Homo sapiens: one gene and its partner. The protein of the gene in region 2 purifies or fractionates together with the protein of the main gene of each other region. This does not show direct contact. Each region holds a gene or a part of one and is shown on either strand. Other genes may lie near its edges. The genes, in order: DSG4 and CFAP210.

Region 1 (11,539 bases), on a different chromosome or scaffold from region 2:
GTATGTCAATTTTGGAAGCTTGAGTTGCATCTGAATGATACTGATCACCTTGGAATGGTGGAAGAGTTCCTCCTTACTAACAATGTTGAGAGAAAATTACATTGTTCAGCTCTTATTTCCACAGATAGTATGGAGGAGGGCATCTATTAGAGGTAAGTCTTTTCTTTGGAAGCAGCTTTAAGTCTTTGTGTATTGATAAAGAGAAGAAAAAGCTCACAGGAACATTATCTTATCCTTTTCACAAGTGGTGTTTTAACCTCCTTTTAAAATTGTAAGCAGGGCCAGGCATGGTGGCTCACGCCTGTAATCCCAGCACTTTGGGAGGCCAAGGTGGGTGGATTGATTGAGGCCAGAAGTTTGAGACCAGCCTGGCCAACAGGGCAAAAATCCGCCTCTACTAAAAATACAAAAAATTTAGCTGGGCTTGGTGGTGCACGCCTATTGTTCCAGCTACTCGGGAGGCTGAGGCACAAGAATCGCTTGAATCTGGGAGGTGGAGGTTGCAGTGAGTCAAAATCATGCCACTGAACTCCAGCCTGGGCAACAGAGCAAGACTGTCTCAAAAAAAAAAAAAAAAAAAAAAAAAGAGTAATCTATTAGTTAAATGTTTGGTATTATTCTTCATTTCTAAAATCTCATAGTGTTTTGACTATTTTATAATTCTTAGAATGATTGGCCTAATAGAATGCAAACTCTATTTTTGCAGGTCGATTTCCACTTTTTTGGTCAGTTTAAAATATTAAAAAAAGACCCAAATTTAAAATAATCACTATATTCTAGACGAGAAAACTTACTGAGTTCATTTTTATAATTTTTTAACATGTTTTAAATGTTAAATGATAACAGTAATTTAAAATACACTCAAAAAATTTCTCTGACAACAACATGTATTTCTATATACCAAGAGTATGATCCTACTTATCCATTTGTAGTTAAAAAAATTCAAACAGTATGGAGATTTTGCAAAGAACTAAAAATAGAACTACCATTCAACCCAGAAATCTCACCACTGGGCATCTACCCAAAAGAATAGAAATCATTATATATAAAAATACCTGTTTTTAAAATTTTTTATTTTGTTATTTTTCTTTTTCAACTTTTATTTTAGAATCAAGGAATACATGCGCAGGTTTGTTACAAAGCTATATCACATGATGCTGAGGTTTGAGGTATGACCGAACTCGTCACTTAGGTAGTGAGCGTAGTACCCAATAGACAGTTTTTCAGCCCTTGCCCTTCTCCTTCTCTCCTTCCCCTAATAGCCTCCATTGTCTATTATGTCCATCTTTATGTCCATGTGAACCCAATGTTTTGCTCCCACTTATAAGTGAGAACATAAGGTATTTGGTTTTCTGTTCCTGCATTAATTTGCTCAGCATAATGGCCTTCAGCTGCATCCATGTTGCTGCAAAGGACGTGATTTCATTCTTCAGTCTTCATTCTTTTTTATGGCTGCATAGTAGTCCACGGTGTATATGTACCACATTTGCTTTGTCCAGTCCACTGTTGATGGGCACCTGGATTGATTCCATGTTTTTGCTATTGTGAATAGCACTGCAGTGAACACATGGGTACACGTGTCCTGTTGGTAGAACAGTTTATTTTTCTTTGGGTTTATACCCAGTAATGGGATTGCTAGGTCAAATGGCTATTCAACTCCCAGTTCCTTGAGAATTCTCCAAACTATTTTCCACAGTAGCTAGACTAATTTGCAATCCCACCAACACTGTATTAGTGTCCGCTTTTCTCCGCAGTCTCACCAATGTGTTAGTTTTTGACTTAACAAAAGCCATCCAATGCAAACTTTAAGCGAGAAATATCCATGTCAGGATTTGCCACGGAATGGAGTGTGTGCCAGATGCTATGTGGCTGGTTGTTGCTTGAGTGTTTAATCACCATGAGACCAATGCTCCTTAGCTACCCCATGGATTTCATCAATTATAGAGTAGTAAAATTTACTAAAGTGAGAAATGGATGTAGCAGCTGGCAGTACACATAATTTGGAAAATATTAGGAAATATGTAAGTAACTTTCTAGCATTACAATGTTTTAGCTGGTCTGCGCTTACACTTTAAAACTTAATTTTTTGAGAGAGAGTTTTTCTTCCAATTAGGGAATAGCAAAGAGTATGCAACAGGCAGGTTTGGATCCTCTTCAGATCTGGTGAAGTTATAGTATAAAAAAGCATACTGGCTAGCGTATCTGAACAATGGGTTCAAGGCTTTGTACCACAACTAGCTGGTTGTGGTCATTTAACCTCTCTATTTCTAGATTCATTGTCCAGAAAATGAGAGAACTAGGTAAGAGGTTATCTGAGATGACTTAAATTCTACAATAGTTTTATTCATAAAGGAGCAAAAGATAGGCAAGAAACACTACAATTATTTCCTTTCAAAAGGATTAAGCCTTGAAAATAAGTTTATTTCATTTACATTATCTCAGTCACATTATTGCTGCTACTGTATACATATTTTACAGAATTAAGTAAAATTACCTGGCTAGAGATTCTTTTTCTCAAGTCAGCTTTATGCCTACGAAAAGTAAGCAATGTGTTTCCATTTTATTTATTCAACATAAACAGTAGTGTTGCAAAGAGAAACACAACTTGGTAATGGACTTAAGTAGTTGGTTAATTATTGTTGTTAGGAACTTAAAGCCATATCCCAGAGTTTTATTTTAAGTCTAGAAATGAATAGAAGCTCTATGAAGGCAGAAACCATGTCTGTCTTCTTTACCTGTATATTCACAGAGCCAAGACTAGCACCCAACACCTAGTTGCTTCTAAGTAAATATTGTAGAATATATGAATAACTACAGAGTGCTTTTGGAGAATATCTGGTTGCCAATTGAAAGCTCTACGATTCAGGTCAATGAAATTGGTTAAGCCATATTTCATGTATTTTTCTGACATAATTGGCAACAGTAGGGAAAAAATTCCCTGTAAGTGGGGAAAACTCTAATATTTCCCCAATAACTCTTTCTACTTTAGGATTGTCATTTTTTTTTGCTATTCTAGATTAATTTACAGTTAATCATATAAATCAATAAAGTTCAATAAAAATATATATTTTTCTTTGATGAACCATTTCCAGCCATGCTTTCAGTTGGCAAACTCTTTTCTTATTATATTAAGCATCTCCTATTGCTTAATAGCGCATAATATTGAAAAATCTTTTGAAGAGACAAATGACTTCAGATATCTAAAGATATTGACAGATACTCTACGTTCCTTTTCAATTTCCTTTCAGAATGTACATTTCATTCAACTTTTCAATTAAAAATTTTAATATAAATATTTCCCTAACGAAAAATATGGCTGGTGGATGTAGACAGGGCTTCTTTTGTAACTTCCAAGAACAAGGCATCTTGGTTTACAAGATTGGTTCTACAGGCCTCAAGACCCATAGGATTCACAATATGAGTTATGTGCTATTCGTTAGACAGTATCAAGGGATGCAATACATTTTCTGCACATTTTTTGACGCATTATTTAAAATCAGAAAGAATTTTAAAAAGGCTTATCTAAAGTGCCTAGCCATATTCACCCTCAAAATGGTATAATCAAATAATGGCATTGACCTTAGAATATCTGAGTATTTGTTGACTATTAATATATATGGTACATTATATATTTTTGGTGGATGTATTGATGATTACAAGGTGCAAGGTCTCCACATAGAATACTGACCATAAAGCACTTACTGTTGGGTGTAATGTATGTTACTGTATCGTGTTACTCTGTGTCGAGATGTCATGGGGGATGTGGAGCCAACGGTTTGGCCTATGGGAAGGTCTGGACTCATCATTTGCATCACTTGAATTTCTGGCCCTACTAAAATATTGCCGCTCATCACAGGTCCCATACAACCCTCAGTCGTGCTACTATTGCTCATGTCAGGCACACCAGGACTAGCCAGTACTCTCTCAGCATAGATTACATTGTTGTAATCTGCTAACTCAGCAGGTACACAAATATTCCCTTGAATATCATAGACAGGTGCCATTACTGCTTCGGTTACTACAACATTGGGTGCAAGCTGAGGATCAAAAATAATTGTAGTGGGTTGCACACATGGATCAGCATTACCGTAAGTCTCAGTCACAATAATATCCCCATGGACCACGGGTTCAGATGCTGCCATTTCTTCTTGGAATTCAACTTCTGAGGGAGTCAATCCTGAAGATTCATTAACAAAGTAATTAGGTCCGAGCAAAGGGAGGTCAGTACTGATTGGTATACAAGCCTGGTGTGAAGGAAATGGTTCAATTTCTGTGTTTAAGCAGATCTCAGCAAGAGTCCTAAATTTTGGATCTAAAGTTTCCATGCAGCTTTCATCTAAGTCATCCACAATCCAACTGCAACAACCAATAGAGCCTACGGGAGACCCGACTCCCTCGTGGTCATAAATGAGCAAGCAGTCATTGGCTGGTCGACCTTCATCTTCATCTGCATAAGCATACGCTTTCTAAAATTAAAAGGAAATACAGAATTAGAAATTTCTTTTTCCCTAAAATAAGGAAGAATAACAGCAATCCCTCAGAGAGACTTCTGAGTTAAGTTGTTACGGAATAAACTGAATAATGGTATCAATCACTCATTAAAATAATTGATACTATCCATGCACATTCTGTGATAGCATTTGTAACTACCAATTTTAAGATATAGTTTACAATTGCAACAACATCTTCAGCATTTGTTTGGTAAAGAATCATGGTGAAATTCATGTATGAACAGATGGAGAATAAAGCAGGCCGACTGAAATATGAGATAAAATTCTAGTTCTATTTTAGTTCTTTTAAAATGTGTAATAAATTATTGTTAACTATAGCAATCCTGTTGTGCTACCAAATACTAGATCTTCTTCATTCTAACAGTATTTTTGCACCTATTAACCATCCCACTGTTTCCCCTCCCTACTACCCTTGTCAGCCTCTAGTAACCATCATTCTACTCTCTATCTCCATGAGTTCGGTTTTTCCTTTTAGCTTCCACAGATGAGTGAGAACATGTCAAATTAGTCTTTCTGTGCCTGGCATATTTCACTTAACAGTGTCCTCCAGTTCCATCCATGTTGTTGCAAAATGACAAAATTTCATTTTTTATGGCTGAATAATATTCCATTGGGTATATGAATCACATTTTAGAAGTCCAATCATCAGTTGATGGACACAGGTTGATTCCATGTATTGGCTACGTGACTAGTGCTGCAATAAACATGGGGGTGCATATATTTCTTTGATATACTGATTTCCTTTCTTTTGGATATATACCCAGCAGTGCTATTGCTGGACCCCTTTTCGTAGTGAAGGTCAGTTGGTGGATAAGTCACTGGACTGAGAATAGGAGAGCTATCTTCTAGGTCTTAATCTAGCACGAGTTGTGGTGATGCTGCGTTCCTGAGTTTTAACTCCTTTCGTTCCCAATTCTTTTTATTTTCTCTTTTCTGTTGGAGGCTCCGGGAGAACATGAAGGACATCAAAAACAGAGGTCATAAATGCACCTTTTTTCCCCTTGATGAGCATTTTCCTGCTTTGCTACTGCTGTGGGAAACAAGGTGAGGAATCAAGGAAACAAAAGATAGAAAAATGGAAAAGGGAAGTGGAGAATGATGAGGGGTGTGGCCTTGTTCACGGTACTAAGATGCGCTATGGCAGTTGAATATGAAATCCTGTGGCAAATTAGCATTTTGTGTTTTAAGGAGACGTGAAATACTTTTTATTCAGGTTTGGGATAGGGTTGAGAATAACAGCATATTTCCGAAGAGGCCTACTACCATTGTGAGTATTTTACTATTATTATTATTCAATCTCAAGACGATTTTATGTGTGACTGTGAGGGCATTACCTCCGAGAAGTAGCTGTCCAAGAAAGCCATGTTGATGTCTGCGTCAGCGTAGTCCCGCAGGGTTCCCATGGTAGAGCTCCTCTTCCTTGCGGCCCCTGAGGCTCCTGCGGCCCCTGCGGCCATGAGGCCAACGGCTGTCCCCATACCTGTGTTGAGCTCCACTCCCGATACACCTCCTTCCACCGTGCCCCCGGCTGCATAGGTGTTGGTGTAGATTTCTGAAAAGGGAGGATGTTGGTTTAACAGCGCTGGAGTTGCCTGCAGCGCGCATCTGCCTAAAACGCTGCCGCCGCCGTCTGCGGTGCCACCACCACCCGGCAAGGCGTAGGCGCTAAAAAGCTGACAAAGAGAGATACAAGTTACACCGATACATCTCCAGGCTTGTTGACCAAATAAAAGTAAATTAATTACACAGAGGGAGTCAGTGGTGGGACGTGGCCTTCCCACATTTGCACAGACTTCGCCCTAGACTTAAAGGTGTAGAACTAGCCAAGAGAACTACAAGCAGGCGCCCGTTCCCGCCGTGGCTGCTGCGGGCTTGATCCAGCCGGGAGCCCTCCAAAGCAAGGCCAGCGGCGTGATTGCAGAAACTGAGCTCATAGTCCTCCTTCACTCCGGAACAGGATGGAGCTGGGCTCACAGGGATGTTCAGTCACGGAGTTTCTTTGCATACAAAGGGCCAAGCTTGGGATACTAAGGAACCATCAGAGAAAGCTCACGTGCACTGCAGAATTAAGCACCCTCTCTGTTTGGTGCAATCATTGCCATATAGCTAAGTAGTGTGTTCAGTATTGTTAGATATGCGTGGGGCTGGTAAGATAGGAGAGTTTACGACACTCTTTTGAGGCAAAAGCTTGTCTGAAGTTAAGAAAAGTTATTCAGTGTATTATTAGAGTACATTTACTGCCTTTTCTTTAGCTCTTTAAAAAAAAACAGCTTGTATTATAAATAATTACTACAGTGCCAGGCACTACTCTAACGTATATTTTGTGATATATGTATATATACACACTTATATATGTGTGTGTGTATATATATAGACACACATACACATGTATGTTATATATAATAAAATAATCTATACAATATATGTATGTATTATATATTACATATGTAATATGTATTATTTACTCCTCACAGCAACACTTTAAAGTAGGTACTATCATAAGCTCAATTTTAAAGATAAGGAAACTGAGGCCCAGTGAGGTTAAATGTCTTGACTAAGGACTTATTACTACAGGTTGAGCATCCCAAATCCAATAATCAAGAATCCAAAATGCTCCTAAGTCTGAAACTTTTTGATCATCATGGTACAAAAAGTTTGAGCCAAACTCAAACTCATGGTCCTATGCATTTCGGATAAAAGATATGCAACCCTTAAGCAAGTGGCAGAGCTGGGAATCAAACCCAAGCATTCTGCTTCCAGAGTTTGCTCTTTTAACTGCTGTGTCATACTTCACTGTCTGTAGTTTCAGATAGAAAAAAAAAGTGGCTACTTCAAACAGGTCACATTCCCTCTAATTATACTGTCACCCAAAGAGACTGACAGACTTTTCCATAAGGTACTTTTACATGAAGTTGGTCTGGTTGAATAATTTTGAAAAATTTAAAAGGAAAAACAGATTTTGGTGTCTACTGACCAGAGGAATCCATCCGATCCTGGGTATTTGAGGCTGTCATGGGTGCACATATATTTGACACATCCTGAAAAGAAAAATAAACATTTTAAAAACAAACGCTTTATGTTAAACATTTAAAAACTGACATCTGTTCATTTTTGTGCAGCATGTAATTGTTAAGACATGCTCAATTTCCACTGAAACTCCACACTTCTCTGGAGAGTGACAGTCCACTTACCCTGTCCTCGGGATGGGCCCCTTCAATTCTCCAAGACTGCATCACTCCTTCTCCGCCCTCAGGCACAGGAGCAAATCTTGTTCCCAGGCCTTCTGGCTGTCTCTGTTTGCAGCAACACAGGAGCAGCAAGAGTGGAGCCACTGCCCAAGAAAGTGACAATGTCGAGTTAACACACATTGCTCGGTTTAGGAAGTCACTGGATGAATCATTCTGGGGAGCATTTGGTGGCAGTATATTTAGAACAAAAATACAAATATATGTAAGAAAATCTCATTTTTTTCCTTTAGGGGATTGAGTATACATATCCAAGTTTATAAATACAGCACCACCAAATCACATAGAACTTTAGCGCTAGATGGCAAGGAGTTTGCGATCAGGTAATTGAATTTCTTTGCTGACAGATTAGGAAAGTAAGGTCGTCTTTAGTCTAAGACTCTTGAACTGGTTGGGGCAGATGCACACATACATGTAAGTTAAACGCATCATGAATATATGTTATCAAGAGGATTGAATACAGGATTCAGCTATAGGACCTGGAGATAGGACCTATCTTCAATCCTTATTACAGTTACACTTAAAATAGAAGTCAAATAATACTCACTAAATTTAATGGAGATATTTACAATTATTTTAAGACTTTGTTTATAGACTATAATGAAAAATTAAAGCTATCAAAAATGTTTAGCTATCCAAGTGTTTCTTAAGAGGAAATTTCCTATTTGTTACCCTAATAATCACCTCAATTCTGTATTTTAATCCATAAATATAGACACTGCTTAAGTTTTCTAAGATTCTAGAATACACTCTGTTTAGTTCTTTGGGCCCACTCTGGTTGCTTTTCATACTTTCCTAATTCTCTAGCATGGCATGCATTTTACTAAGTGGGTTAATTAAAGATAAAGAATAGAAGGATAAATGCTTGAGGGGATGGATGCCCCATTCTCCAGGATGTGATTATTTCACATTGCATGCCTGTATCAAAGCAGCTAATGTACCCCATAAATATGTACACCTATTATGTACCCACAAAAATTAAAAATTAAAAACAGATACAAAAGAAGAGACTATCAAAGTTGCAAAATCAGCTTTAGTCTTATTACAACAATTAATTTGGCAATTTTGCCATCTGCACTATGAACAGTGAAAGGTCAAGTTATACATTTCCATAGCATTTTCTGGAAAAGGACTAAAACTAAAATTGGTAGCCCCTAGGCCATGGTTCTGCCTATTCTATATTTCTGTGAATTTAAATGTGAGCTGGATCATGTACCATTGCAGGCCTGAACTCTAACAAAGGCACTATCTAATAAATGAAATGAAGTGTTTTTAGCACATACCCAATACAATTACTGTATGTGTAATCTCATTTGGAGCTAACATCAAAAGTGTCAATTTGAGGCCCTTTGGGAACATAGGTTTGGGCTCAGATCCCTCCCACTACCATCACACTGCCCCCTCTCTCCTAAAATAGACCATGGGCTTCTCCATTGAAAACAAGTGTCCATAGGGGTATTCCTCTCCTATTCTACAATCCATCAGTTGAACAACTCTCATGCTTTCTTTGTCTGGGTCAGGAAAAAGTCTTGAAATTCTTAGTGCTAACGTTCTGGAAATGCAGCTGGCACTGGGTTTTTAGCCCTGAACTGCACATTAGTCTCACCAAAGGGCTTGAACATGCTGATGCTTGGTCTCATCTTGAGTATGACTCTAGTATGAGTAATTTTGGAAGACCTTTAACTAATTCTTATGTACAACTAGGGTTGAGAACCGCTAACTCAAAGCTTACCCGAAACCACTACTCAATTGCTGTAGAGTTATATTCTGGGAAAATGTGTCTAATATCATTGTGAGAATCACTCATGATCTTTGCATAGCTTTGAAACCTCACAGATTATTTCAAAAAAGAAATCCTCACCAAAAGTCAGCTGTTATTTTTTATGCCTTGAAATGATTACATTTTAATTAGTGCTCATCCCTGAAAACAGCAACAATACAGTTTGACAAATTTACTTCTCTTTAATTTTAGAACCCAGCTTTTGATCCCCATGAAACCTAAATATTGCAAGGGCAACCTAAAATGTATGAAGTATTCTTCCTCTGAGGATCTATATGTTTAAAAAAACTCTATGGGGAAAGGAGGGCCCTTTTTGGGAAATTTTTGTTTGGTGATCTTTCCACTTCTGTGACCAGTCTTAGTTTAGGCACTCACCCAGAGCCCAGAGGCTAATTCTCTGTTCTAGTCTCTTCTACTTGCTTCCTACCGCAGGGTCACCTGCGCTCATCAGCCCTCATCAACTCTTCTGTGCCATTGTACTGAAGCCCAGAATGCCTGGTGTGTCATGAACATGCCTCCATGCTGGCTCCCAGACTCCCTTTTGCCTCTCTGCTTCCTAGGTGTGCTATGCTCTTCCATATCTTGCTCCCTTTTGTTTGTGTGTGTGGTTTTTTTTTGTGTGTGTGTGTTTGATTACCTTTCAAATTTCCTTAGACATCATCCTCCTTTAAAAGAAATCCTCAGCAGGGTGCAGTGGCTCATGCCTGTAATCCCAGCACTTTGGGAGCCCAAGGCAGGTGGACCACGAGGTCAGGAGTTCAAGACCATCCTGGCTATCATGGTGAAACCCCGTCTCTACTAAAAGTACAAAAATTAGCCAGTCGTGGTGGTGGGCGCCTGTAGTCCCAGCTACTCGGGAGGCTGAGGCAGGAGAATCATTTGAACCTGGGAGGCAGAAGTTGCAGTGAGCCGAGGTTGCGCCACTGCACTCCAGCCTGGGCAATAGAGCAAGATTCCATCTCAAAAAAAAGAAAAAGAAAAAAAGAAAAAAAAAATCCTCAGCTTTTCAGGCTCACCTCAAAATCCACTTTTCCAAAAGATTGTCCTAACTTTTCCACATGGACTTAATTGCTTCTGCCTCTCTACTCTTAAAGCATTTTAAGGAAATTTCCATGATGGGATTTGTTTTGTGCTTTTAGGTAGTATATGTAGTGATTTGCATGTGTTTCCCATTTTTAGGACTGTCACTCACCCTAGGCTTTCTTAGTTATCATTGTGGATTAAGCGCATATATTTGTCAGTCCCATTGTTTATTTCTAAGGCACTCAAAAATTGCTAGAGATACCAAAAAGAAATGGCTCCATGAACCTAACCATCCCAGCGAGCCTCGTAACAGCCCTATTTTGAAGAACTATTGAAAAGAAGGATTTAATTGAGTACTTACAAATCAGTAGCAGGATGCCCAGAACCATCATGCCAATCCCTGCTGGTCCAAGACCAACATTTGAAACTCCAGCTTGGTCTTCAGTGACAGGCCCATACGTGTCACCAGTTATGTCCTCTGTGTAGATGCCCGCGGCACCAGAGTCCAGGCACATGTGGTTGTCATCGCAATCACAGGCATATAACTGCACCATTTGTGCCAATTCACATGCTCTGTTATAGCTGTCCTTCACCAGGATTGGGATTTCATAAAATCCTGGAGATAAAACCTGCTTAGCCGTAAGGATTGCCGAGGTAGCTGAAATGGAAGAGAGGAAACAGAAAATAAATGGAAATTCCTTGGTGGGCTAGGGGGGTGGTTAACTCTCCCTAATACCAAATATTGACTTAAAACACTAGATTTTTCATGCTTTCTTAGTCATAAAGCACCTTGTACTTTTTTTTAACATTTATTTAATTTATTATTATTATTATTATTCTTGTTATTTTTGAGACAGAGTCTCATTCCTATTGCCCAGGCTGGAGTGCAGTGGCACGAACATGACTCACTGCAGCCTTGGATTCCTAGGTTTAAGTGATTCTCCCACCTCAGTCTCCTGAGAAGCTGGGACTACAGGTGT
Region 2 (11,539 bases):
AGGCTTAAGTGATTCTCCCACCTTAGCATTCTGAGTAGATGGGACTAGGCATACACCACTATGCCTGGCTACTTTAAAAAATTTTTTATAGAGATGGGCTATGTTTCCTAGGCTGGTCTCCAACTCCTGAGGTCAAGCAGTCCTCCTGCCTTGGCCTCCCATGGTTCTGGGATTATAGACATGAGCTACCACAACTGGCCTGTATCAGAGTTCTTAAGGACCAACCTCCTAATAGTGTAAAATATCTTCTAAATGCTCTCCGGTACACAATAAAACATTTGAATGATCAGACTAACTCCAAGCAAATTAAATCCATGATGCAATAACAGTTCGGGAATAAGCACCTGTTGTAGACAGAAGACAGTATTCTGCACTGACTGAGAATACAGTTTTTTAGTGATTGCAATTACCATGACATTTTTCTTGCTTTTATGTCTTCCTCTGTTCCTCTTCTCTCCTTTAAGATCATGTTCTTATTCCTAAGACTTCTTCTCTATACCCAAATTAGTAAAGTTATACTCTAAAGAGATATTGTCCTTTCAAACAGGTAACCTACAGCAGCTAATTATTGGGGTCTCTACTGAGAAAAATTCTGTGACTTTTATCTAAATATTTTCAAATGTGAATTTTGGGGAAACTAATATTTATTTGCTTCTCCTACATGGCAAAACTGCCAATTCTGCTATTTGAAAACCCCCAATGACTTTATTTTCTACTATCACTTTTTTCATGTGCTGCCACAAAATGAAAATGTTTAAATATGTTGTACAAATGGTAGCCAACACAAACTTTTTTGTAGTTTTTAAGAGTTTAAAGTTTTAATTTTACATTTTGACCTTTTTTGTAAGGGTGTATGTTATGTGTTTCACCTTTGTTAACATTAAAAACTGTGATGTGTGCATAGAATATTACTTTCTAGGGCTAAATCTCTGATTTCCTGAAGCTTATGTCTTTTTCTTTCTTGATTTACTCCCTCGTCTTGCTATAATACACCTTTGAATAGCTTCCTTAAGAATGGGTGTATGAGAGGTAAAATTTTTTAATTATCTGAAAAGTTTATTTTTTACTCATTTTTATTTATTTTATTATTTTTTAAGGACAAGTATGATAGTATGAAAAGCTTATCTTTTAAAGTCATGCATGATTTACAGTTTGATTGGTTATAGAATTCTGGGTTCAGAATTCAGAATTTTGTATTAATTGTTTCATATTCCTCTGGCATCCAGTATTGCTACTGAAAAGTATGATGCCATTGATGATCTTCATCTGACATATGTAATCATTTTTACTTTTCTTTCTTATTTTTTTTTTGTTTCATTTTGTTTTGAGACAGTTTCACCCTGCCTCCCTGGCTGGAGTGCAGTGGCATGATCTTGGCTCACTGCTGCAACCTCTGCCTCCTGGGCTTAAGCACTTCCTGTGCCTCAGCCTCCCGAGTAGCTGGGATTACAGGCATGTGCCACATACCCGGCTAATTTTTGTACTTTTAATAGAGACAGGGTTTCGCCATGTTGACTAGGCTGGTCTCGAACTCTTGGCCTCAAGTGATCTGTCCGCCTTGGCCTCCTGAAGTGCTGTGATTACAAGCATGAGCCACTGTGCCCAGCCATTTTTCTTTTTTTCTTTTTCTTCTTTCTGTCCGAATGGTTTTAGGGTCCTGTCTTTATCTCTGGTGCTCCAAAATTTTACAGATGTGCCTTGAATTATGTGCCTTCATTCATTTTTCTGGGCATTCAGTTGATGCTTTTATTCTGTAAACATATTTCTTTCATCCTGAGAACTTTTATTGTTTTATTTCTTAGATAATTTTGTCCCCTCCCATTTTATCTTTCTATTGTTCTAGAATCCCTCTGATAGACATTGGATTTTTTGAAATAATGCTCTAATGTCTAAGAATCTTTTCTCATTAGTTAAGAGAAGGCTTAAATGCATGTGATAGAAAACCCAAAATAATATACAGGTTTAAAGTGCAGGGGTGTCTGGTAATGGCAGCTATAGAATTAACAGGGACTAAGACACCTTCGACACCTTCTTCTCTTTTTTTTTTACTCTGTTCTTTTTTTTTTTTTTTTTTTTTTTGAGATGGAGTCTTATTCTGTCACCCAGGCTGGAGTGCAGTGGCATGATCTCAGCTCACTGCAACCTCTGCCTCCCAGGTTCAAGCAATTCTCCCTGCCTCAGCCTCCCAAGTAGCTGGGATTACAGGCACCCACCGCCATACCCCACTAATTTTTGTGTTTTTAGTAGAGATGGGTTTTCACCATGTTGGCCAGGCTGGTCTTGAACTCCTGACCTCAGGTGATCTGCCTGCCTCAGCCTCCCAAAGTGCTGGGATTACAGGTGTGAGTCACCACGCCCGGTCTACTCTGTTATTCTTTGTACATAGATGGCATCTGTTCTCAAGTTTGCCTCATGGCCCTGAATAGCTGCTGGAGTTTTAGCCCTCATCTCCACATTCTGGATAGCAAGAAAGAAGAAAGGATGAAGGTCAAAAGGGAGTACTCTATTTCCTGTCTCCTTCTCCTCCTCCTCCTCCTCCTCCTCCCGCACCTCCTTCTCCACCACCTTCTCCTCCTCCTCCTTCTCTACTTCATCTTCCTCCTCTTCCTTCTCTTCCTCGTCCTCCTCCTTCTCTACTTCATCCTCCTCCTCCTCTTCCTCCTCTTTCCTCTTTCTTCTTCCTTTTTCCTCCTCTTCCTCTCTTCTCCTTCTCCTCCTTCTTCTTCTTCCTCTTCTTCCTCTTCCTCTTTTTTTGAGACAGGGTCTCACTCTGTTTCCCAGGCTGGAGTGCAGTGGCACGATGTTGGCTCACTGCAGCCTTGACTTCCTGGGCTTAAGTGATCCTCCCACCTCAGCCTGCCTGGTAGCTGGGACTACAGGCATGTGCTGCCATACCTGTCTAATTTTTGTGGTCTTTTTTGTAGAGATGGTTCTGGTATGTTGCCCAGGCTGTTCTCCTTTTAAGGAATTTTCCAAGAAGTCCCACTTAACAGTTTTCCCTGAATCTCATTGGTCATAATTTTGTTACACCTGGCTGAAAAGAAAGCTGCACATGTAGTCTTTCAGCTGAGCATATTTCTACCCTGAATAAAATCTGGGTCCTGCTGCTAACGAAGCTTAGGCAACTAATTGTTTCTGCCGTTTTCTTTTTGTTCTACTGAGTTTCAACTTTGTATTCTAAGTCTTCTATTAATTTTTTTATTTTAGCTATGAAAATTTTAATTCCTAAGACTTTTACTTGAAATGTTGTTATTGTTTTCATTAAAATCTGATTATTGGTTAAGGGGTGGAATAATTTTTATGTCTCCAAGTAGGCTTGGAGTAGGACAGACCTAGTTTTTAATGCTAACTCTGCCATTTACTGGCTATATGACCTTGAGCTTAAGCTTTCAATATTGAAAAATGAGAATTAACTCTGTGTTAATCAAATCTGTATTTTTTGTATTATAAAAAGTCTTTGTGAATATTAGAATAAACTTGGAGAAAACAGCAAAATAAAACATGTAAGGAATTATCCAAAACACTTTTAACAGTTTGCTGTTTGCTTTAGTTTTTCATATTGATCATATTGACCAATATATTTCCTATCCAGATTACAGGCTTTTAAAATTAACCCATAAAATAGGAGATTAGTTAAGAGTGCTGGGCACATAGTAGACCCTGAGTTATAAATATATTGGAAGATTAAGTGATGCCCCTAACAACTTTTACCTTGAATTGGTTTCTACTTACATAATAACAGAATATGCCAGGCACGGTGGCTCGTGCCTGTAGCCCCAGCTACTCTGGTGGCTGAGGTGGGAGTTTCCCTTGAGCCCCAGAGTTCAAGGCTTTCATGAGCTGTGATCATGCCACTGCACCCTGGGCAACAGACACCCTGTCTAAATAACAGAATATACTAATATATCTATATATTCAGGCTATTGTGCTCAATGGCATCTGTTTTTATGATGGCTAACTCAGGCTGAGATCATAGAACATATGCTAATATGAACAGATTTTACTTTTTGTTTTAAATACTAGTGACCTACTTTTACAATTTTTGTTAGAATACATATCTGTTTTTTCTTATATGTATGCAAAAGCAAAGTTTGGACAAGAAACTAGCAATAGTGATTTGAGTCTGGAGGGAGGATTAGGAAGAGACATAGTGGATGGAGTGGAAGGACGCTCGCTACACTGTGTATGTAAAAAAACATTTTTGGTTTTTGAACCATATGACTATTCAAACATTAAATGAACTTTATATTATATATATATATTTGGTGTATTTTTTCTTATACAATTATTTTAAATTGTATACTTTAAAGACATGAGATACTTGAAGAGAAATACAGAAAAGCATTAAGAAGATATAAAAGTTACCTATTATCTCATACCCCAGGGATAACTACTGTTAACATTTGACACATTTCTTCCAGTCATTTATACATTATAAAGTTGTACTTACATGTATTTGTGAAATTGGAATATACTATGTAATGTTACATATTCTGCTTTCCCCCACCTACTTATTGATTATATTATTTGAATCACATCTCATGTAATTGAGAGTATGATTTATTTAACTATATTCTCAATGATTATTCTCTATGATTGAATATTTAGAGGTTGTTTCCATTTTTTTGCTATTATAAATAACTTTGAGATAAATTACATGACACATAAACCTTTATGCACTTCTCTGATCATCTCTTTGGGATAAAATTTCCAGGAGAGAAATAACTGGGTCAGAAGCTGTGACCATTTGACAGGTTCTTGTTAGCTACTGATATGTTGAAAGATATTTTTCTTTGTGATAAGTTAATATATACAATTTTTCCCCCAAGGAACATATGCAGGATAAACATATTATCAAAGCTGTAGAACAGCAGCAGCAAGAGGAAGAAGATGAAAAGATGAGAAAATTCATCAAAGCAAAAAAGCGTCTTATACAAATGGGGAAAGAAAAAGAGGCTGAAACACACAGGTAGGCTTTAATAATGTGTATAATAAAGTACTATCTGAAATTATTATGATTTTATGATTATTATGACAGTAGTCTTTAGGAACAGAGATCTTATTTTATATATGACTAGAGCATTCAGTGACTTGATTTCAGTTTGGGACGTGGGTGTGAGGACATCATCTTGTAGATGGTCAGAAATGCTGATCTGCCATCCCAGAGGAAGTATGAGCTGAAGATGGCTTTGTGAGTCATTGGTATATAAGTGGTAGTTGGAGTTGTCGATACAGATGAGCTCACCTAGGGTGAGTAGGTAAGAAATGAAGGTGGCATAGTCCCTAGGGAACTCCATTTAAAAGTCAAATGGAAAAAGAAGATAACACGAAGACCAATAAATAGTTTCCAGAGATTGGAGGAAAACCAGGGAAACATCAGAGAGAAGACTCTCAGTAAGAAGGGAGCAGTCATCAGTATTAGGTCGTAATGGGATTAAGTACAATTTTTAAAATGAAGTATTCATCAGATTTAGAGGACATTGCTTATATTAGTGAGCAGTTTGGTATGGGGTGTAGAGGTAAGAGTAGGAGGCCAGATTGCAGTACAGGGGGTTTCTGTCTAAATCATGCTTTCCCCTTGTGCAAAATCCTCTGATGGCTTCACATCTCACTTAGTCTTTACAATGGCCCATAAGGCTCTCCACCTACCCAAATTTCCATCTTCCCAGCTCATCCCTCCCAGCCTTATCCCTCAGACCTCTTCTCTTACTATTCCCTCCTCTCCCTCTTCTCACCTGCACTGGACTGGCCTCTGCCTGCTCTAAGGAATGCTCACCTCCAGAGAGCACGTAACTTGCTTTCTTAACTCTTTCAGATCTGTACTTAAATATTACCTTCTCATTGAGGCTTTCTCTGACTACTTTATTTAAAATTATACCCCCTCCCCAATTGCTTATCACTTTACCTGCTTTCCTCGCCCTCGTTGCTTGATATATAGCACTATATATATATACATACATATATATACACACATACATATATATATATATATATATATATATATATATATATATTTTTTTTTTTTTTTTTTTTTTTTTTTTTTTGAGACGGAGTCTTGCTCTGTCGCCCAGGCTGGAGTGCAGTGGCGCGATCTCGGCTTACTGCAAGCTCCACCTCCCGGGTTCACGCCATTCTCCTGCCTCAGCCTCCCAAGTAGTTGGGACTACAGGAGCCCGCCACCAGGCCCGGCTAGTTTTTTTTTTGTAATTTTTAGTAGAGACGGGGTTTCACCGTGTTAGCCAGGATGGTCTCGATCTCCTGACCTCGTGATCCGCCCGCCTCGGCCTCCCAAAGTGCTGGGATTACAGGCGTGAGCCACTGCGCCCGGCTATTTTTTAAAACTATTTATTTTGTTTACTGTCCCTCTCCTCCAGCAATCATGAAAGCCCCATGAGGGCAGAGATTTTTATTTTTATTAAAACTTTTTTTTAGAGATGAGGTCTTGCTATGTTGCCCAGGGTGGAGGACAATGACCATTCACAGGCGTGATCACAGTGCCCTGTAGCCTCAACCTCATAGCCTCAAGGGATCCTTCTATCTTAGCCTCTTGAGTAGTTGGGACTAAAGGTGCGCACCACCATGCCCAACTTCTAATGTTTTTGTTCACTGTTATGTCTGTCCCCAGCACCGGGAATAGTGTCAGGAGCATAGTAAGCAATCAATAAAACTGTTTAAAATACTATTTTTTGGAATTCTACCAGAAATGTCACCTTTTCTCTGAAGGCTTTCTTTTTTTCTCATTTGTCCATATCATTTTCTAGCTTTCTCATGGCATTTATTATCTTTTGTCTTCTATAACTATAAAGACATTTGCATAAATGTCTTTTCTCCACTTTAAATTGTAATTTCCTTGGAGTATGCACTGTATCCTTTCTCATCATTTCTCACATGCTGCTTTGCCAATTCACTAAGTGAATTTGTCACAACAAAATTATTTTTTATGCAATTTCATAAATAAAAATGCCCTAATTTAACAAGATGTATTCTTATGATGTACCAGGCACATGCTTAGGCTCTTAACTAGAGAGAGGACCCATTCAATTTCTGACCTGAGGAATCTCATAGTGAATTTGAGAGGCCAAAGTAGGAGGATTGCTTGAGGCCAGGAGTTTGAGACCAGCCTGGCCAGCATAGCAAAATCCTGTCTCTTAAAAAAAAAAAAAAAAAAGGAACCTTATAGTGTAAAGGGAGAAATTTAAACAGATCAAGTTAAAAAAGTGCTGTGAATAAATTCCAGACAGAGTATTGTGAGGGGATGGATATTTAGGATTTTGATAACTTTTATTAGATTATTTCCTTGATTTTATTTAAATAAAGGCCTTTTATAGCCTCAGCCTCCAATGATAGAGTAAGCAGGGTAGTCTGATAAAATATTGAAATATTTTCTGTGGCCAGGTGCAGTGGCTCACACCTGTAATCCCAGCATTTTGGGAGGCTGAGGCGGGCGGATCACTTGAGGTCAAGAGTTCAAGACCAGCCTGGGTACATGGTGAAACTCCCTCTCTACTAAAAATAAAAAAACTAGCTGGGCTGAGGCAGGAGAATCGCTTGAACCCAGGAGGTGGAGGTTGCAGTGAGCCAAGATTGTGCCACTGCACTCCAGCCTGGGTGACAGTGAGACTCAGTCTCAAAAAAAATTTTTTTTCTTTTTTTTTAATAGAGTCTCACTCTGTCACTCAGGCTGGAGTACAGTGGTACATAGCTCACTGCCACCTTGAACCCCTGGGCTCAAGCAGTCCTCCTGCCTCAGCCTCCTGAGTAGCTGGGACTACAGGTCCGTGCCACTGCGCTTGGCTAAATTTTTTTTTTTTTTTTTTCAGACAGAGTCTTGCTCTGTCGCCCAGGCTGGAGTGCAGTGGTGTGATCTCGGCTGACTGCAACCTACGCCTCCTAGGTTCAAGCGATTCTCATGCCTCAGCCTCCTGAGTAGCTGGGATTACAGGCGCCTGCCACCACGCCCGGCTAATTTTTGTATTTTTAGTGGAGACAGGGTTTCACCATGTTGGTCAGGCTAGTCTCGAACTCCTGACCTCGTGATGTGCTCGCCTCAGCCTCCCAAAGTGCTGGGATTACAGGTATGAGCCACCACGCCCAGCTTAAAAAATTTGTGGAGATGGGGTCTTGCCATCTTGCCCAGGCTGGTCTCTTAACTCCTGGGCTCAAGCGATCCTACCACCTCAGCCTCCCAAAGTGTTGGGATTACAGGCATGAGCTACCACACCTGGCCTAAAATATTTTTCAGTGTAGATAATTTTAAGATCTTATTTCTTAAACACACACACACACACACACACACACACACACACACAGATTATACATATTACTGTCTTTGGATTTTAGAATATATGTTACTTTATAGTTAAAAAATAATGTCCACTTAAAATAATATATGTAAGGAGCAATGGGGCTCCTGTTAGTTTTGTAAGAGACTGCAAAATATCTCAGATTCCCTAATTAAATTATGTTGGCTCCATTGGACATGTGTTCATGAAGATTTGACGAGTATGGTTATTTTGTTATAGGCTTATGGAGAAACGAAGAGAAAGAATACATAACTTCCTGAGTGAACTGTTGAAAGAGAAACTTGACAATGAAGATATGATTATTGCTAGAGATATTGCAGAAGCTGAGGCTGAATGGGAAAAAAGAGAAAGAGAAAAAGATGAAAAAAACAAAGCAGAATTAAAAACAATTGCAGAATATCGAGCCATTGTGGTAAACAATTCAATTATGAAAATAAAAATAGAAAGACAGAGTTAGGACCTTTCCACTGTGTTTTCCATCTCATCTGCCTCTCTAACCAAAAACTAGCCAAGATATTAAAAACAATGTATGAATTATCTTCCTGTATTTTTGAAATTGGACAATGTTTACTTCCTAACAAAGATGACACGACAGTTACAAAAAAGATATTTATAGATGCAAAGTAATAATCTCTTCTGTTTCAGAACCATCTGAAACGCAAAGGTTATTTGTTATACTTTTCATTTGTAGGTTTTAAAGACAAACCATGTAAAAATTATACATTTCTGTTTCTTAATATTTTAAAACATATCTTACATGACTGTCATAACATTTAATTTGGATAGTTTATACACATTGGAGCAATTTTTTTTTTTTTGAGACAGAGTTTTGCCCAGGCTAGAGTGCAGTGGTGCGATCTCAGCTCACCTCAACCTTCGCCTCCTGGGTTCAAGCAATTCTCCTGCCTCAGTCTCCAGAGTAGCTGAGATTACAGGCATGCGCCACCATGACTGGCTAATTTTGTATTTTTAGTAGAGACAGCGTTTCTCCATGTTGGTCAGGCTGGTCTCGAACTCCTGACCTCCCGAGGTGATCCGCCCACCTCGGCCTCCCAAAGTGCTGAGATTACAGGTGTTGAGCCACCAAGTATGGCTGGAGCAATTAATTTTTTACTTACATATATTTCCCTTCCTTGAGAAGATCTTGCTTTTCATCTTTTTCAAGCCAATAAGGATTGTCCTATAGCACTTGGGTATTTTCTGATATTCAGGAAATAGAACAAAACCAAAGTAAACTGGCCGCATGGGAACCACCCCAGGTGCATGCACTTTTCTGCTCCTGCATTGCTCCTGGCTGACTCTCCTCTGCTTCAACTCTCTGACTCTGTGCCTTTTCAGACAAGACTGGTTGCTATAACTGGTTTTATATGTTTCCTTTGCCTTTAAACATCTAGATGAAAAATAAAGAGGAAGAAGAAAGACAAAGAAAAATAGAGGCTAAAGAACAATTGCTGGCTGTCATGAAAGCAGATCAGATTTTCTGGGAACATGAAAAGGAGAAAAAATGCAAAGCTGATAAAGAACATCAAGAGGTTCAAGATGCCCATATTCAGCAAATGGTAATTACTCCTGAATGTTTATAATTATGTTAGTAATAAGTATATAATACAGAATTCATGCTAGTTTTCTACTCCCAAGCAGTTTCATCAGGTAAGAAAAAAATGGTCATTATGGTTATGACACAATAAAATGTATTAAAAATGTGAGGTTTGTTTCTATCTCCAGTGAAGTTCCCATGTGAGTTTTATCTTTTAAATGAATGTTTATCCTTCTTTAGTGTCTATTATACTTCAGTAAATATTAAAGAAAATACAAATGCATGTGGAGGCCATAATGTTCATCTTGTTTTACTTTTTTCCCATATCTCAGAGACTATGTTGATTGCGATCTCATAGGTTTCAGATTTGAGGAATGGAGATATCAGATTTTAAAAGATGTGTAGAGGACCTAGCATCCAATCATTTGTAACTAAAACCTGTTTTTGAAATGGTTGTACCATTTTCCATTCCTACCAGCAATGTATGCAAGCACAACTTACTCCACATACTCATCAACACTTGATAGTCATCCCTTAATTTTAACTATTCTAGTATAGTGATATCTTATGGCTTTATTTTACATTTCTCTAATGACCAAAGATAATGGACATTTTTTTCACATCCTTGCTAGCCATCTGCATACCTTCTTTTGTGAAGTGTCTATTTAAGAGTGTTGCCAATTTTTAATTGGGTTGTTTTCTTAGTGCTGAGTTTTTTAAAATTGATTTTTATTGTGGTAAAATATACATAACATAAAAAGTACCATTTTAAGCATGGTTAAGTGTACAGTTCAGAGGCATTGAGTACATTCACATTGATCATGGCCACTATACATCTCCAGGGTTTTTCATCATCCTGTACTAAAACTCTGTACATGTTAAACAGTAACTCCCTATCCCCTCTTTTCTCCAGTCTGAGTAACCTCTGTTTTACTATCTCAATGGATTTGATTATTCTAGGTACCTCATAAATGGAATCAGACAATATTTGTCCTTTTCTGTTTGGTTTTCACTTTTTTTTTTTTTTTTTTTTTTTTTTTTGAGACAGAGTTTTGCTCTGTTGCCCAGGCTGGAGTGCAGTGGCATGATACCCACTCTCGGCTCAGTGCAACCTCTGCCTCCAGGGTTCAAGCAATTCTCCTGCCTCAGCCTCCCAAGTAGCTGGGATTACAGGTGCCCACCACCACGCTGGGCTAATTTTTGTATTTTTAGTAGAGATGGGGTTTCACCATGTTGTCCAGGCTGGTCTCGAACTCCTGACCTGAAGTGCCCACCTTGGCTTCGGCCTCCCAAAGTGCTACGACTACGCATGAGCCACTGTGCCCGGCCTCCATTTTTGAATTGGATTTTTTGTTGTTGGGTTTTAGAAGTTTTAAAAATACTCTGTGTATTAAATCTCTTATCAGATACATGATTTGGAAATGTCTTCTTCCATCCCATGAGTTACCTTTTTACTCCATTGATAGTATCTTTGATGTATAAAAGTTTTAAATTTTTGGCCAGGTGCCAAAATAGTTTGTTGTTTCAATCACGATCAAATAAGATCAGTATTTGGAATCCTTCTGATTTACTTGTTGAAGTCTTTAAGAAGTTTTCTTGATCAAATACTTGGTTCCTCTTAGGTACAATTTTTAAAGAAAAAAACAGAATACTTGATTTTTTTTGCCTTATTTTCCAGTTTTCAGACAGTTAATTAGCT

The links.
Region 1: the proteins of CFAP210 (region 2) and DSG4 purify together in Homo sapiens (affinity purification with mass spectrometry; 2 studies listed by BioGRID and IntAct, with this or other methods). This does not show direct contact.

The regions. Positions count from the first base shown.
Region 1 is NC_000018.10:31,405,755-31,417,293, reverse strand, and holds the end of DSG4 (desmoglein-4 isoform 2 preproprotein), read right to left. Parts: intron 11,218-11,539; coding exon 10,921-11,217; intron 7,843-10,920; coding exon 7,703-7,842; intron 7,550-7,702; coding exon 7,486-7,549; intron 6,185-7,485; coding exon of another isoform or gene 6,064-6,184; coding exon 5,846-6,063; intron 4,467-5,845; coding exon 3,699-4,466; 3' UTR 2,385-3,698; downstream 1-2,384.
Region 2 is NC_000002.12:169,647,505-169,659,043, reverse strand, and holds part of CFAP210 (cilia- and flagella- associated protein 210), read left to right. Parts: intron 1-208; exon of another isoform or gene 209-520; intron 521-4,829; coding exon 4,830-4,969; intron 4,970-8,522; coding exon 8,523-8,715; intron 8,716-9,697; coding exon 9,698-9,862; intron 9,863-11,539. UniProt on the Homo sapiens protein: Microtubule inner protein (MIP) part of the dynein-decorated doublet microtubules (DMTs) in cilia axoneme, which is required for motile cilia beating.